3 separate regions of the Homo sapiens genome follow, and regions 1 and 2 are each linked to region 3. The links come from fine-mapping of genetic effects on gene expression. A gene starts in region 3. Each other region holds a variant in brackets. All regions are shown on one strand. Distances are between the middles of the regions. Region 1 overlaps PIEZO1 (piezo type mechanosensitive ion channel component 1 (Er blood group)). Region 2 overlaps PIEZO1 (piezo type mechanosensitive ion channel component 1 (Er blood group)). Region 3 holds the start of PIEZO1 (piezo type mechanosensitive ion channel component 1 (Er blood group)).

Region 1 (5,000 bases), 39 kb after region 3:
CCTGTCCATGGCTACGAGGTGTCCACCGGGCTGCGTTTTTCCAGGGGACTCTGGGGAGGATCTGCTTCCTCTTCCAGCTGCTCCAGGTGCCTACCTTCCTGGGCTTGGGGCCCCTCCCTCCATCTCCAGAGCCGGTGGGGTGGGGTCAGGATCACACCCTGTCTCTCCTGCTCCCTCTCCCCTGCGGTAACCCTGTGGCTTCGTCCCATCTGCCTCCCCGGCTAATCCAGGCCGACTTCCCTGGTTTAAGGTCAGCTGTTGGGCAGCCCCCATTTCCTCTGCTGCCTGGACTCGCCTCTGCATGTGAGCTTCTGCGTTCACAGATTCTGGGGACTGGGGTGCAGGCATCATTGGGGTCCATCGTTCTGCCAGCTGCAGGTGGAAGGTCGCTCTCCGGCCTCGCGACATCTGGCTGGAAGCATCCCAGAGGCTCCTCCTAGCTCGTGGTGCTGTGGGGTGGGCAATGGTCTTTTTTATTTATTTTTTTTGAGATGGAGTCTCACTCTGTCACCCAGGCTGGAGTGCAATGGCACGATCTGGGCTCACTGCAACCTCCGCCTCGCGGGTTCAAGCGATTCTCCCGCCTCGGCCTCCCGAGTAGCTGGGATTACAGGCGCCCACCATCATGCCTGGCTAATTTTTGTGTTTTTGTAGAGACAGGGGTTTTACCATGTTGGCCAGGCTGGTCTTGAACTCCTGACCTCAGGTGATCTGCCCACCTCGGCCGAGACTACAGGCATGAGCTACCGTGCTTGGCTTTTTTTTTTTTTTTCGAGTGGGGGTCTTGCTTGGTTGCCCAGGCTGGAGAGCAGTGGCATGATCATGGCTCACTGCAGCCTCCACCTCCTGGGCTCAAGCGATCCTCCTGCCTTAGCCTACCAAAGTGCTGAGATTACAGGTGTGAGTCACTGTGCCCAGCGCAGGCACTGATCTTGGATCATGGGTAGAATTCAGGGGTGCAGAGAGGCATTTTGGGAGGGGCCCAGTGCGGCCGAGTGCTGGGAGTCGCTGGGGCCCGAGGCCCAAACCCCTCCAGGATGCATGGCTGGGGTGGGTGGGCACCCCCACTCCCGGTCCCTATCCTGGGCCTCCCCTTTGCTCTGTGGAGCCGGTTCTGTCTGTTCCCAGGCCCCTGGCGTTTCGCCGTTTGTTCCGTAAATATTTCATGCCCAGGGCGCAATTGGAAACACTTTCCTTTAATCAGCAGTGGGGGAAGGCAGGCGCCCAGCCAGGCCAGGGGAGGAGCTGGGGTGGGAAGATTTGGAGAGGACCCGGGAGGACTTCCCTGCCTGAGCCTCGTCAGAGGCCCTTCAGAGACGGAGATGCTGCCCAGTTTTCCGGGAGGGAGAGAGGAAAGTGTGAGGCTTGCCCGAGCCGAGTGCCCGGGGCTTTATGATTTGTGCAGCTGCTGGGCTTGGCGTGGCCCTGGTGGAAGCTCTGACGCCATCTGAGCCTTGGTCCCCTTGTAGGCGTCAGCCTGATCCTTGGGGGGCTGGAGGTTGAGCTCAGACTGAACAGGGAGGAGAGGGGTAGGGGCTGGGGCTGGGGCAGAGGGAACAGACCCTGGTGCTCCAGGCAGGGCTGCAGGCAGAGCCACAGGGGGTGGCTCCCAGAGACCTGCTTGTCATTTAGGGACTCAGAAGCCCCATCCTGCCTTAGGATAAAACCCACCTCCAAGACTGACCCTGCTGTCTGGAGAGAGATCACCCCCCACCTCTTACCATGCCCCGTGCAGGGAGGCCCTGCCACCCTCTCCAGCTTCACTGGTCCCCCGGCTCTGCCAGCCTTGTGTAGTCTCCATCCTCTGTCTCAAAAGGCCCCTCTCGTGGCCCTACCCCGCAGCTCAGCCCTAGCTGTCGCTGGGTGGGCCTCATGGCTCAGCCTCAAGGCACCCTGGGTCCCTTGGCTGGTCCCATGCACACCCCATGGATCAGGTTCCAGGGGGCTCCCATGCACACCCCACGGATCAGACTCAGGGCAACTCCACACTCCCCACAGAACAATCAGGCCCAGCCCTTGTCCGGCAGGTGTGGGGATGGTGGCTATGGACCACGCATCAGGATGCTGCCGTGGTGGGGCCCCTCAGCCTTTGCAGGCCGTGCCGGGGTCCAAGGGCTCCGGCTCTGGGGGAGGTCCATGCTCTGTCAACCATCCGGTCTGCAATACCCTGGGGCCTCCCCGCCCCTTCCTGTTTCCTCCTGAGAGCCCTGCAAGCTGGAGGGGGAGCCCCGGCCCCTTTTTTTTTTTTTTTTTTTGAGACGGAGTCTTGTTCTGTTGCCCAGGCTGGAGTGCAGTGGCGCGATCTCAACTCACTGCAACCTCCGCCTCCTGGGTTTAAGTGAAAGTGATTCTCCTGCCTCAGCCTCCTGAGTAGCTGAGATTACAGGTGCCCATCACCACGCCTGGCTAATTTTTGTATTTTCAGTAGAAACAGGGTTTCACCATGTTGGCCAGGCTGGTCTCAAACTCCTGACCTGAGGTGATCCACCCACCTCGGCCTCCCAAAGGTGTGAACCACCACGCCAGGCCCCCTGCACCTTCTTCTGGGTGGGCAAGAGCCATGCTGAGCCCCTCCCCTGCCATGGATAGGGGTGGCAAGAATAGTCCATTCCCCATGGGCTCCCTCCGGCAGGCAGCGGATGGGTTGGGGCCCACACAGTGGTTCAGGAA[A/CAAA]GGCTGAAGGGCGGTTGCCGGCCAGAGCTGGGCGGGTCCCTGGCCTGAGCCTCCTCTCACTCCCTTTCCCAGGATGGAAAGGCCACTGTGAGCTGGGTGTGTCCTGCCAGGAGGGAGTTGGAGTCGGGGGCAGGAGACCCACTGGGTCTCCTGGGCTCCTGGAAGAGGCAGCAGTGGGTCCCTGCGGAGGTGGCCTGATCCCCGGCTCAGCCTGGTTTTCCCAGCTTTGCATTTGGGGGTGGGACCTGCAGGGGGAGAGTGACGGGGTGGGCGGGGACAGGGGCTGCAGGTGGAGGCACGAGAAAGCCACCCGACCCCTTGAGGTCATGCTGTTTGCGTCGGAGAAGAGGGCCGGTGTCAGGGTGCCCCCTCGGCCTCTGTGTGCACCTCCCCGCTCCCCGCCCCGTGCAGGTCAGCAGAGCCTCGATCCCTCTGCACGTTCCGGCCCCCTCCCATCTCCAGCAGCGTCTCTTCCCGGGGTGCCCCTCGGACTCTCAGCTCCCTAGTCTGATCCAGCCCAGGCAGGGAGCGGGCGTGCCACGTGGCCAGGAGTGGCCTCCAGGCCCAGCTGCGGCCCCTTCGACCCTGCGGAGGGATCATGGCCCAGCTGTTCTAACATGGCCAGACCAGGACACTCTGGCCGGCCCGAGAACTGAACCGGGAAGGAGGCAGGGAAAGGGGAGGGAGGAAGACAATGGGGAAGCAGTGACATCCGAGATGTAGCCAGAGACGGACATCCTGGACTGTCGTGCAGGGCAAGGCGGGTGGGCGGGAGCCAGGTGGCCTGAGAGCCCCTCCCTGCCCAGGGGTCTCTGGTCAGGCAGTTCCTTCCCGGGCTGCTGGATCGTGTGTGCAGGGAACCCGTCAGCCTGGCTGCCCAAGGGCCCAGATGTCCTCTCAGTGCCCGGGGGTCCTTGACAGCCCCAGCAGGAGCCCCACGTGCCTGTGGGGCAGGCCCCGCAGGTCCCTCTCTGTAGGACTCAGAATACCTTCTCCAATGCCACGTGCTCTCCCTGAGTGCCCAGTGCCACAGAGGGCCCCGCTGGCGAGGTTACTTCAACGTCAGGCTAGAGGGTGCAGCGAGCAGGACTCACAGCCCAGGTTCCCAGGCAGGTGTGGCAGGAGCCCATTCCCTGGGTCGGTGTTCTCATGTCACCCCACGGTGACCCTGCTGTACAGAGGCGGGGGCGCGGGGCCCCTGGCTGGTGCCCTCCTGCTGCCAGACTTGTGCTCTGCTGAAGAGGGGCTGGCGCGGCAGGTATGAGCCCGGCACGGAGGTCGTGAGCAGTGAGAAGCCTGGCACCTATGGGTTCGGGGCAGGGAGGCCCTGGAAGGTCCTGTCCTCCGGGAGCCCTGCACAGCACCCCCTGGTGGTGGCTCCTGTTCGTGTCGGGGCTGCAGCCTCCCTTCCTGGACGGTTTTCCATTCCTCCTTCCCACTCTCCCTGCTGCTCACCCCTCCCATCCTCCACAGGTCAGAGGTCATAGCTGCAGGGTCAGCAGGTCAGGGCCTGGGGCAACCCTAGGAAGGTGTGAGTGTGAGAAGCTGGTCCAAACCTGCCTCGGCTGCCTGGTGGTGCGGACAGGGAGTCCTGGGCATCCGTGAGGGCTGCTTCACGGTCAGGCTTAGGGATGTGCAGGGTGACTTGGACGTGGGTCATGAGTCTTTGCTCCAGAAAGAGGGGGCTGAGTGTCCAAGGCCAATCCCGAGTCTGTCACCTAACACCATTTGTGCTCAAAAAACTGAACAGAGTGGACACAGGCCCTGAGTTTGCGCCCCGAGGCCGAGAGAGGGCAGATGTGGTGGTGACATTCACCACCTTGGACCCAGACCCAGATGCTACCTGTCCCTGAGCTCCAGGAAGTTGTGAGAAGGGCCTGAGCTGTTCTGCACTTTCTCGTGGCCGGGCGTGGCTGGTGGTGCAGGAGTTGCTGCCCCAGGGTGAGGGCCCGGAAGCTCCTGCCAGCACGTGCCGGGGTGGAAAGGGAAGCTGTCCACAGCCCTGTCAGGACTCAGAACCCGGTGGGTCAAGGACTTTGGTCCGGACCCCTGCTGAAGGGTGAGCTGTCCACATGTGCGCCGAGAGCAGAGGTGAAGCCAGGGCTCCTGAGTGCCCCCAGCCACAGGGTGCGCCCGCCCAGCCCCTGCCCTGCAGCCGAAGGCCTCCCTGCTGGGGGGCTGAGTCCAGTGGGGCCACAGGCAGCTGGGAGCAGGACAAGGCTGCCAGGCAACCAGATGGTGCTGCCGCTTCCTGCCAGGTGTGGGTGCACAGAGAGAGAGAGGATGCCGGTCTGGGGCCTGACCTGGTGCACAGCAGGTGCCTGAAATGC
Region 2 (5,000 bases), 29 kb after region 3:
GCTTCCCAGGTGACGAAGCTTCAACCCATGGGCTCTCCTTCCTGGGTGTGGAAGCCCTGGAGAAGGTGGAGATGGGATCTCAGTCCAGCCCATTGGCTCCACTTCCTTTGAGAAGCTCTTTCCCCCGTCTTGGCCCCCAGCCCTTGTTCAAGCACCTGTCCCTCTCCTGTCTCCTAGGCCCCGTCAGTCCTTTTGGAGACCTGTTCCCACCCGCCCCTGCTCTCACAGGCTGCCAGTGTCCACACACTCTCAGGCACTGTCATTGGAGCCTTTTAACCACACGGGAAAGCAGGCAGGTTAGGTAACTACCCCCCACCCCCCCGCCAGCAACGCCCCCTGCATACCCAGGGCCTGCACCAGGTGCTGCTGCGCTGCCAGCTCTCTCGAGGTCCCTCCTCCTAACCTCAATGCATCGCGTCTTCCAGCCCCCGGCTCCGAGGGCTCAGCCTCCAGGTGGTCTAACCTGGAGTCTAAACCTGGATTGCCATCTGCCTGCCTCAGCCCTTCCCTTCCCCAGGGACCGAGGGCCAGTGCGGCTCCCCAGCCACCCATTTTTTGTTTGTTTTGAGACGGAGTCTCGCTCTGTCGCCCAGGCTGGAGTGCAGTGTCCTGATCTCGGCTCACTGCAAGCTCCATCTCCTGGGTTCACGCCATTCTCCTGCCTCAGCCCCCCAAGTAGCTGGGACTACAGGTGCCCGCCACCACACCCGGCTACTTTTTTGTATTTTTAGTAGAGACAGGGTTTCACCATGTTGGCCAGGATGGTCTCGATCTCCTGACCTTCTGATCTGCCCGCCTCGGCCTCCCAAAGTGCTGGGATTACAGGCATGAGCCACTGCACCTGGCTTGTTTGTTTTTATTTTTATTGTTTTTTGAGACGGAATCTTGCTCTATTGCCCAGGCTGGAGTGCAGTGACATAATCTCAGCTCACTGCAACCTCCACCTCCCAGGTTCAAGCGATTCTCTTGCCTCAGCCTCCCAAGTAGCTGGGACTACAGGCACCCACCACCACACCCAGATACATTTTGTATTTTTAGTAGAGATGGGGTTTCACCATGTTGGCCAGGCTGGTTTCGAACTCCTGACCATGAGATGGCGGGCTTGAGCCATCTTCCCGCCTCGGCCTCCCAAAGTGCTGGGATTACAGGCGTGAGCCACGGTGCCCGGCCCCAGCCACCAGTTTTGTACAGCACTCAGGTGGGTGTGGTTCCTGAGGACATGTCACACGAGATCCTTCCGGTCCATTAGCCCACCCCGCCCCATCAGTGGCCAGTGCGGCCATTGTGGGGTCCAGAGTCCCGAGGCAGAACGACTGACTCCAGGTTGTGGAGGGGCCTCTTAGGATCCTTCTAGGCACCCAGGTTGGGCAGGTGCCTCCATGCCTAAGACTGAGCTCCTGGTGGACATCGGGCTGGGTGTGGGCGTCCTGCACACCCTCCCTGTGGCCTGGTGCCCGTGAGGAGTGGACAGTCACCCCGAGAGCATAGACCACCCTCGAGGCTCCCAGATGGCGGCCGCAGAGCCCCACTTCCCTGCCTGGTGTGTGATACCTTCCATGGCTGAGGACACCTCTGACTGCTCACTCCTGTGACCCTGGACCCAAGTGCTGGGCCACACCTGGACTCCAGGCCCCAGTCCTTCCTTCTTCTGCTGTCCTGGCTCCTGGGTGGCCCCCGCCCTCCCCGCTCCGAGGCTCTGCCCTGTGCTGGGAACCCAGGAATTGCCACCCCCTGGCCCCGGTTTCTCATGTCAGGATCTGCTGGCCAGGTTGACTCCTGAGCGCCACTGTCTCCTCAGACTTGCTGGTCCCACCCGGTCCCCACCTGTCCACCGCCCGAGGCTCTCCTGTGAGGCCGCTCTGCAGCTCTTGGCCTGGGGGCCCCCGGCCTCTCATGGTGCCTTCTGCACTGTCCCCTTTGGAGATGGGAGCTTTGAGGGTAGGCGCCACCGTTCGGTGAAAAGGCGGTATAAGCAAAGCAACCCCCAGATACTGAAGGAGCCGGGAAATAAAAGGAGGCAGACAGAGCAAGTGTGTTGGTACCCGCCTATTTACTGGCAGGAACTTACAGACGGAAACATGGCCTCAGGCAGCCTCCAGGCAGGTAGAGCTCTGAACCCAAACGCCCGATCTGGGGCTCGTATCGTGCCCTGGGAGGAATGTGCAGGTGGCTGGGAACGTGGCGGGTGGGGTGGCCAGATTCCTGCTGCAGCACCGGGTTTGTTTAGGAAGAAACGTACGAGGACTAGACACTCTTTTTTTTCTTTCCTGCACGTGAATGCCAGGGAGTAGGTGCTCCTGCAGGAAGATGATGCATCAACCAGCCAGTCTGGAGGCATTCC[G/C]AGACCCGGGGTTAATCAGCAGATTAGCATTTAAATAAAGTTACTCTGTCCCCACAGCCAGCTAGGCCCGAGCCACATGGCGGGGGCGGCGGGGGCGGCTGTTCGCCGCATCCCAGGCTTGCTCCATCTCCTCGTCTGCAATGTGGAGGTGACAGTCGTGGTCCTCGGCTAGTGCCACAGGACTGTACGGGACAGATCACCCAGCCCCGTGCCTGCACTGGGGGCGGCGGTGACGTGATGGCCGCGGCGGTGACCTGATGGCCGCAGGTGTGTCCACCCTCTGGTTAGGCCTCTCCTCTCCCTGGGGCGCAACAGGTGTCCTCGGGTGGGAGGTTCAGCTGCTGGGCCTGGGGCCCCAGCTTTCAGCTCCTGTGCAGGCGTGGAGCGGGACGGCACGCCGGGGCGTTCGTTCACACGATGCCCCCAGCTCGTCTCTGCCTGCTCTGTGATGCAGCCTCAGCTCCTGTGGGTCCCGGGTCACCCACCCGTGTGGGCCGCAGTCTTTCTGCACCACGTCCTGCTCTCGGCCAGCGCTGGCCTGCGGGCCCCGGCAGTGTGGGGTCACACACAGGCCGCACCGGCTGTTTCACGGAGCCCCCCTGCTCAAAATCCTGGCCTTGGGTCTCTGTGTGGCTCCTGGAGGGAGCATGTATGAGGTGTCCAGGTTGTGAAAGCCCCATCCGGCAGCCCTCCCTGTGACAGTCCTTCAGGCCTCGTCAGGCTTGGTTCAGCCCGTGTTAGAGGAGGCCAGACAGCTCCTCCTCGATCACCACAGGGAACGAGGGTTGGGCAGTTTCTCCTCTCCCACCCGGGCGTGGGTCAGCTGCAAGGGTCTCATCCCAGGAACTGGATCCTGGCAGGGGGGCTCAGGCATCTGACATCCCCTGGCAGGTCTTCCTATGTGCCAGTGGGAGTGGGTGGTGTCCAGCCCTCTTTGTGGAATGTTCCGGTTGAGTGGTGTGTGGTCCTGGTTACCACCATGTGGCATTTGTGGCTTTCCTGGCCAGCACCCACTGAAAGCAGAGGCCAGCCCAGCCCTTGGACACCCAGGGGCCCAGCAGCTACCGTGGGGGCAGCCTCTCCCCTCCTGACTGTGCTCCTCTCAGCTGTAGGATGAAGGTCTGTGGATGGGTGATGGCTGGGCTCTCTGCTTCCCAAGGAGCTGGATGTGGGCCATAGTCAGGCGTGTGCTGGTGAGGCGAGGGGGTTGGGGGTTGGGAACCACAGCTCTCTCTGACCCCATCCCATTGCAGCTGACTCAGGAAAAGGCATTACCCCCACGGGGTCACAGGCCCAGCCTGGGCAGCTCCTGATGGGAACATGGGAGCCACAGGGCAGGGCAGGCTCCTGTCCCCGCTCCTTGGATTGTCTCAGGCCCCGCCTCCCCTTTGGCTGAATTTCTTCCTTCTCTGCCTGAGCCTGATCTGCGAAGCTTCCGACCTGCCCTGAGTTGGAGCCAGTCTTCAGGGCCAAAAGCAATGCCGTCTCCTCCAGGCAGCCTGCTCTGAAGTCTCCCCCTCTGGCTTTAGCCCACAAAGTCACAGCTGAGGCCACATCAACACACTTAGACCAAGAGCACTGCCGGCTGCATAGACAGCACAGGTAGATCCAAGGAGTGTTTCGAAAAGCCGTGGCCCTGCGGCCGGGATGCCCGGACCTGGGTCCTGACCACTCTTGGGAGCTCCTCCCCTCTCAGAGCCCATCCCATCTGAAAATGGGGGCATTGGAGCATTGGAGGAGTGCTCCTCACTCCTGCCCTGCTAGCCGGCTACTCCGAGGACCCCAAGACCAGATGATGGGAGAAGTGGTGGGCTGGGCTGTGACCCTGAGCCCCCTTCTCATCCCACCCGTGAGGCTGCCCCTGCTTGGTGTCTGTGGCAAGGCTGACAGAAGATGGCGCCAGGGACCAGCCAGGGCCCTCCTGTCTCAGCCCGTCCTTGGGTGAGTGGGTGTGCTCTGGGGGTGGCAGGTGTGCTCCGGGGGCGGGAGGTGTGCTGCGGGGGGCCGGGTACGCTCTGGGGGGGCGGGTGAGCTCTGGGGGGCTGGGTGCGCTCTGGGGGGGCTGGTGTGCTCTGGGGATGGACAGGTGTGCTCTGGGGGGCGGGGTGTGCTCTGGGGATGGATAGGTGTGCTCTGGGGGGGCGGTTGTGCTCTGGGGGGGCAGGGGTGCTCCGGGGGTGAGTGTGCTCTGGGGGGCGGTGGGTGTGCTCTGGGGGCGGTGGGTGGGCTTTGGGCTAAGTAGCCCTCTTCCTCTCTGAGCCTTTTCCTTGTCTGTGTTGTTGGTGAGTGGCCGCCACCTGGGACAAGCCTTAGCTGTCTGTCCAACTGTCCACCATGTCCCCGGACCCTAGACCAAGCCCGCTGCCTGGTGGGGCCTGCTTGGTATTGAATGAATGAATGAATGGATGAATGGATGAATGGATGAATGAATGAGTGAACAAACTCTGGGGGGCGTGTTGCTGATCACCCCAGGGCAGGCCCGTGGTGGGTCATGGTCTCAGGCAGGGGACTTGCCCTGCCGGGTGACGTTGGCCTGCCGGGGAACCCCTGCCAAGGTGCCTCCCATGCCCCCATCGTCCTCTGCCTTTGAGTCCACTCTGCCCCTCAAGGTTCCCCTCTGGCTCGGCCAGGGGCAGGGCGGTCAGGGAGGCCTCCAGCT
Region 3 (5,000 bases):
TCTGTTGCCCAGGCTGGAGTGCAGTGGGGTGATCTCGGCTCACTGCAAGCTCCGCCTCCCGGGTTCACGCCATTCTCCTGCCTCAGCCTTCCGAGTAGCTGGGACTACAGGCGCCCGCCACCGCGCCCGGCTAATTTTTTGTATTTTTAGTAGAGATGGGGTTTCACCGTGTTAGCCAGGATGGTCTCCATCTGCTGACCTCGTGATCCACCCGCCTCGGCCTCCAAAAGTGCTGGGATTACAGGCGTGAGCCACCGCACCCGGCCTATATCAGCCTTTAAACACTAGACTTCCCATGAAAATCTCCATTTCTGGGTGGTTTTTTTTTTTTTAATGGAGTTTCGTTCTTGTCACTCAGGCTGGAGTGCAATGGCATGATCTCGGCTCACGGCAACCTCTGCCTCCCAGGTTCAAGCGATTTTCCTGCCTCGGCCTCCTGAGTAGTTGGGAATACAGGCGCCTGCCATCACGCCCGGCTAATTTTTGTATATTTATTTATTTATTTATTTATTTATTTATTTATTTATTGAGACGGAGTCTGGCTCTGTCGCCCAGGCTGGAGTGCAGTGGCGCTATCTCGGCTCACTGCAAGCTCCGCCTCCTGGGTTGATGCCATTCTCCTGCCTCAGCCTCCCGAGTAGTTGGGACTACAGGAGCCCGCCACCACGCCCGGCTAATTTTTTATGTTTTTAGTAGAGATGGGTTTTCACCGTGTTAGCCAGGATGGTCTCGATCTCCTGACCTGGTGATCCACCCGCCTCGGCCTCCCAAAGTGCTGGGATTACAGGCGTGAGCCACCGCGCCCGGCCTAATTTTTGTATTTTTAGTAGAGACGGGGTTTCACCATGTTGGCCAGGCTGGTCTCGAACTCCTGACGTCAAGTGATCCCCCGACCCCCTACCCCCTTGCCTCAGCCCCGCAAAGTGCTGGGATTACAGGCCTGAGCCACTGCCCCGCCATCTTTTTTTTTTTTTTTTTTTTTTGAGCTGGAGGGTGTGGGCTTGTGCTGGGCTCTCATGAGTTGCCAGTGCCTTGAGGCTCAGTGGCCACAGTCCCCCCAGCCCCACTCCCTGCCTTACGCAGCTGAGTTTGAGAGCCATGAACTGAGCCCAATTAAACGGTGTAGAGCCCTTTGCCCTCTTTCTGTGCCCATCTCAAGGGCAGACGAAGGCCAAACTGACGTGGCCTGGGTGAGGGTCCCGAACACCCTGGACTCAGACCCTACCTCTCCGTGGCAGGGCGCCGCGGCAGCAGGTGCACAGGCCGTGGCTCTCACTCTCACCGTCTCACGCCAGAGCGACCCGGGCAAAGCCGCGCGCGGTGGCCGGCGTGGCTGGGAGCAGCCCCCGAGCCCCCGTCAGACCAACGCGGATCGCGGCACTGCTGCGACCCGAGCATCCCGCGTGCTCCCTCCGGGACCACTAGGCCCGGCCGCCGCGGGAACTCCGAGCCTCCCCACGGTCCCCAGGGGGCGCTGCGTGCTCGCGCCTCGGGGAGCAAAGCGAAAGTCGCTCGGGCACGCGGGGTGCAGTTGCGCGTGGGGCGCTGCCTGGGGGAGCCAGAGGCCCCGGGACCCCTTATGTAGCGCCCGGGCCCCAGCCGCAGCCCACCCAGCGAGAAGCGCCCCTGCCCACCGCCGCGCACGCTCGGAGCCGCGGGGCCAAGACTGCGGGAGGGGAGGGGTCCGCTCCGGGCCAGCGCCAGTCGGGGGTCTCCAGGCCCCAACGCACCAGGGCGGGCCGGAGGCGGGACGGGCCGCGCGGGACAGCGGAGGGGGTGCCTGGGCGCGCCGGGCCGTCGGGGAAGCGCGGAGGCGGGCACGCCGGGGAGGGCGGGAGGGGGCCGAGCTTATAAAGGCCCGCGGGCGGAGGAGGGCGGGAGCCGCCGTCCGGCCCAGCTCGGCCCCAGTGAGCCGAGCGCTGCGCTCCGCCGAGGGGCAGGGCGGTCGCCTGAGCGAGCGCGGGCCCGGGACGTCGGCACCGGCGGGGCGGCCGAAGGAGAAGGAGGAAGAGGAGAAGGCGGCGCGCGGGTCCCCGCGGGTCAGCCATGGCGCGCCGGCCCCGGGGCCCCCGCACCGCCCCATAGCGCCGCGGCGTCCGCTCGGTCTGGGCCGGGCCCTGGGCCCTCCAGCCATGGAGCCGCACGTGCTCGGCGCGGTCCTGTACTGGCTGCTGCTGCCCTGCGCGCTGCTGGCTGGTGAGTGGGGGGCGGGCGCCTGGGGGCGACGGGAGGGGGCTGCGTCTCGGCTCCCCACGGCCTGGACACCGGACGACGCCGGCCGGGGCGAGGGCTGCGGGCGAGCGGGCGCGGAAATTCCCAGGGACGCGCGACCCGGGCGCCCGCATTCCTGAAGCATGAGCGCGCCAGGCGGCGGCGGGGCTCCTGTCCCAGGGCCGGGCTGGAAGGGCGGCGGCGGCTGGGGGAGACGGCACCGCGTGCCCACGGGGGCGGTCGAGCGAGCGCCGGGCATAGCGCGGCTGGCGTCTCCGCCGGGGCGCTGCGGAGAGGAGGCCGCCGGGCGAGGCGGTGTTTGCCCCGGTGGGAAGGGCCGCGGCGGTGGTGGGGGGAGCACGAATCTCTTTTTCTCTTTCGGGTTTAAAAAAAAAAGCGCAAAGTTGCATCAGGACTTCCTGACAATCTGGGAGAAGGCGGGCTTCCTGCCTGGAGCTGTTTAATTTGGAGCTTCCCGAGCCCAACGAACGTCCGTGCCCAGGGCCCAGCCCCGCTCACCGCTGCACCCCCCTCTGCCGGACTGAGGCGGTCCCACACTTTGGAAAAAAATAGTGTGGGTTCCTCCCTGGTCCTCCCTTGCCCTACTGGGCTCAGTTTCGCAGGGGCGGGGGCCGGCCTCTGCCCTGGTCTGGGGGAGGGGACACCCCCGGAGGCTGTGGCCTGGTGTCAGGGCGGGGCAGGGGTCCCCAGTCCTGGCATCTGTGTTCCCTGCTTGCCGGGCAGTGGTGCCCCTTTCGCGAAGCACACCCGGGTGGCTTGGTGCTGCACGGCCTGGCACCCCTACCCTTCCCCGACCCTGGCCTAGCCGGGACCCAGGGTCCGCGCCCTCCGCCCGGGGGCTCCCCACGTGTGATTGATCTGGGAAGCAGTCGGATGGAATTAACCCACGGACAAGTGGGACGGTTTGCATTGGGAGTCCGCCATGGACACGGCAGGTGGGGCCTTTTGATTGTAAAAGCCCTTTCGGAGCCCTTGCCTCGCTCCAGGTGGGAGCTCGCCCAGCGCTAGCTTTGGGGATCTAGAGCCGCCTGCCTGAGGCTCCCAGACAGACTGCGTTTTGATCGGTCGCACAGAAAGGTGGTGAAACTTGGGGAAGATTTTCTAGACAGGAATCAATGAAAACCATTGAGGCTGGAGAGGAGAGGTTTTGAGCAACTCTCTTCAGTGCGGTCAGCCCTGTGTGGACTGGGCAGCCTGGGACCTGCTCCCAGTGCAGGGTCAGATGGGCCGTAAACAGGGCCCGGCTGTGTTCCTTCCTGTGCCTTGAAAACAAGCAGGACAGCCTGGCACAGAGGCAGAGTCTAGAGCTGACAGGCCTTAGAGAGGGAAACAGGAAAGCTTCTGAAACGTCCCGTTCACACTGATCGTTCCATTTCCTCTTGTGTCTGAGTGGGAGCGGGTGTCCTCCCTGCAGGGAATGCCCCCCCTCTCAGATGGCAGCTGCTCCTTGGGCAGAGTTGGCAATGTTTTTCTTTAAATGACCAGATGGTAAATATTTTCATGTCACAAAATCTTCTTCTTCTGGTATTTTTCCAGCCATTAAATGTAAAAGCCCTCCTGAGTTCATGGGCTGTACCTAAACAGGTGTTGAGCCCGATTCTGTGGCACATGTGGTTTGCTGCCCCCTGGGCATTGGTCAGGGGGCCTGGGTTCTGCCTTCTCGATTGCTATCCGCGTGGGGGATCTGGGGGAGGGATCACTGTTCTTCTTGCTTTTGGCCTCCTTGGGGAGGATGGGGAGGTAGCCCAGGGGTGCTCACCCAGGCCCCGTGTCAGTCTTCTATGAAACTTTTAAAGAATAGTGATGACTGACTGTCTGTCTGTATGGTACTTTCCTTAAACCTAAAACTGGTCCCAAATAAAGTCTCTTAATTTGAAAGATGCTGAAGCCCGGGCCATACCCCACACTGATTCTGTGTCTGGGGATGGGGCGTGGGGCCTGGGCCTCACTCAGTGTTTTCTCTCAGTCACCTGGGGGAGATGGAAGTGGAGCCGGCCAAGAACCCTGCCTGCCTGCCTGCTGGCCGGGACTCCTGAGTCAGGCTCTCTGGCCCTGGGGTGTGGGCAGCTCCAGATGGACCCGCGATGTGCAGGTTCAGCTGGCCTGGCCGGAGGTGGGACACTGGCTTTGCTGTCTTTGGAGTGCCCCCTCCCTCTCTGGCGAGCTTTGGCTGGAAGCAGTTCTACCGTGTTTTGGAAATGAATGAGGCCTTCAGAAGGCATTAGTCAGTGTGTGCCTGCGCTGGCTCAGACAGTGCCTGGTGAGGGTTTGAGTCATCCTGGGGTGCCCCTGGCCCCCACGCCCTCCCTCTCCAGTGCAGGATCATTACCCAAAAATCTGGCAGGGAGCTGCCCCACCCACAGGGAGCAGGGGCCTCCTTCAGCAGTCTCACCTAATGTTGCTGGAGCCTTGGGGGATCAGGGCCCATCTCTTCTAGAGAGATGTCAGGGCAGGGCTGGGCGCGATGGCTCACACCTGTAATCCCAGAGCTTCGGGAGGCCAAGGTGGGAGGATTGCTTGAGCGTAGCCATTCGAGAGCAGCCTGGGCAACGTAGAGATCCCCATCTCTATGAAAAATATTTAAAAATTAGCTGGGCATGGTGGTAGTGCACCTGTAGTCCCAGCTACTCAGGAGGCCAAGGTGGGATGATTGTTTGAGTCCAGGAGTTGGAGGCTACAGTGAGCCATGATTGTATGACTGCACTCCAGCCTGGGTGACAGACCCTGTCTCAAAAAAGAAAAAGGAAAAAAAAGGGCAGGACATTTGT

The links. PIP is the estimated chance that this variant, and not a neighbour inherited with it, causes the effect.
Region 1: its variant is fine-mapped to the expression of PIEZO1 in left ventricle (GTEx, PIP 0.95).
Region 2: its variant is fine-mapped to the expression of PIEZO1 in esophagus mucosa (GTEx, PIP above 0.99). The same link has a PIP of 0.9 or more in sun-exposed skin.

What each region holds. Positions count from the first base shown.
Region 1 is chr16:88,743,004-88,748,003 of GRCh38, reverse strand. The region is part of intron 2 of PIEZO1 (piezo type mechanosensitive ion channel component 1 (Er blood group)); the gene reads left to right. PIEZO1-AS1 (PIEZO1 antisense RNA 1) reads right to left here. Exons shown (of 3, transcript NR_120387.1): 1 at 4,514-5,000; 2 at 3,660-4,412; 3 at 2,256-2,915. Among named protein-coding and RNA genes, the nearest start is that of PIEZO1-AS1, 2.7 kb to the right of the region's middle. RefSeq lists a silencer at 2,377-2,436 and an enhancer at 3,454-4,140. The variant A/CAAA (reference allele first, on the strand shown) is at 2,671.
Region 2 is chr16:88,752,642-88,757,641 of GRCh38, reverse strand. The region is part of intron 1 of PIEZO1 (piezo type mechanosensitive ion channel component 1 (Er blood group)); the gene reads left to right. Among named protein-coding and RNA genes, the nearest start is that of PIEZO1-AS1, 12 kb to the right of the region's middle. The variant G/C (reference allele first, on the strand shown) is at 2,342.
Region 3 is chr16:88,782,097-88,787,096 of GRCh38, reverse strand. PIEZO1 (piezo type mechanosensitive ion channel component 1 (Er blood group)) reads left to right here and starts at 1,877. Exons shown (of 51, transcript NM_001142864.4): 1 at 1,877-2,196. The coding sequence starts at 2,133. RefSeq lists silencers at 1,379-1,708, 1,749-2,228, 2,729-3,048 and an enhancer at 1,733-2,646.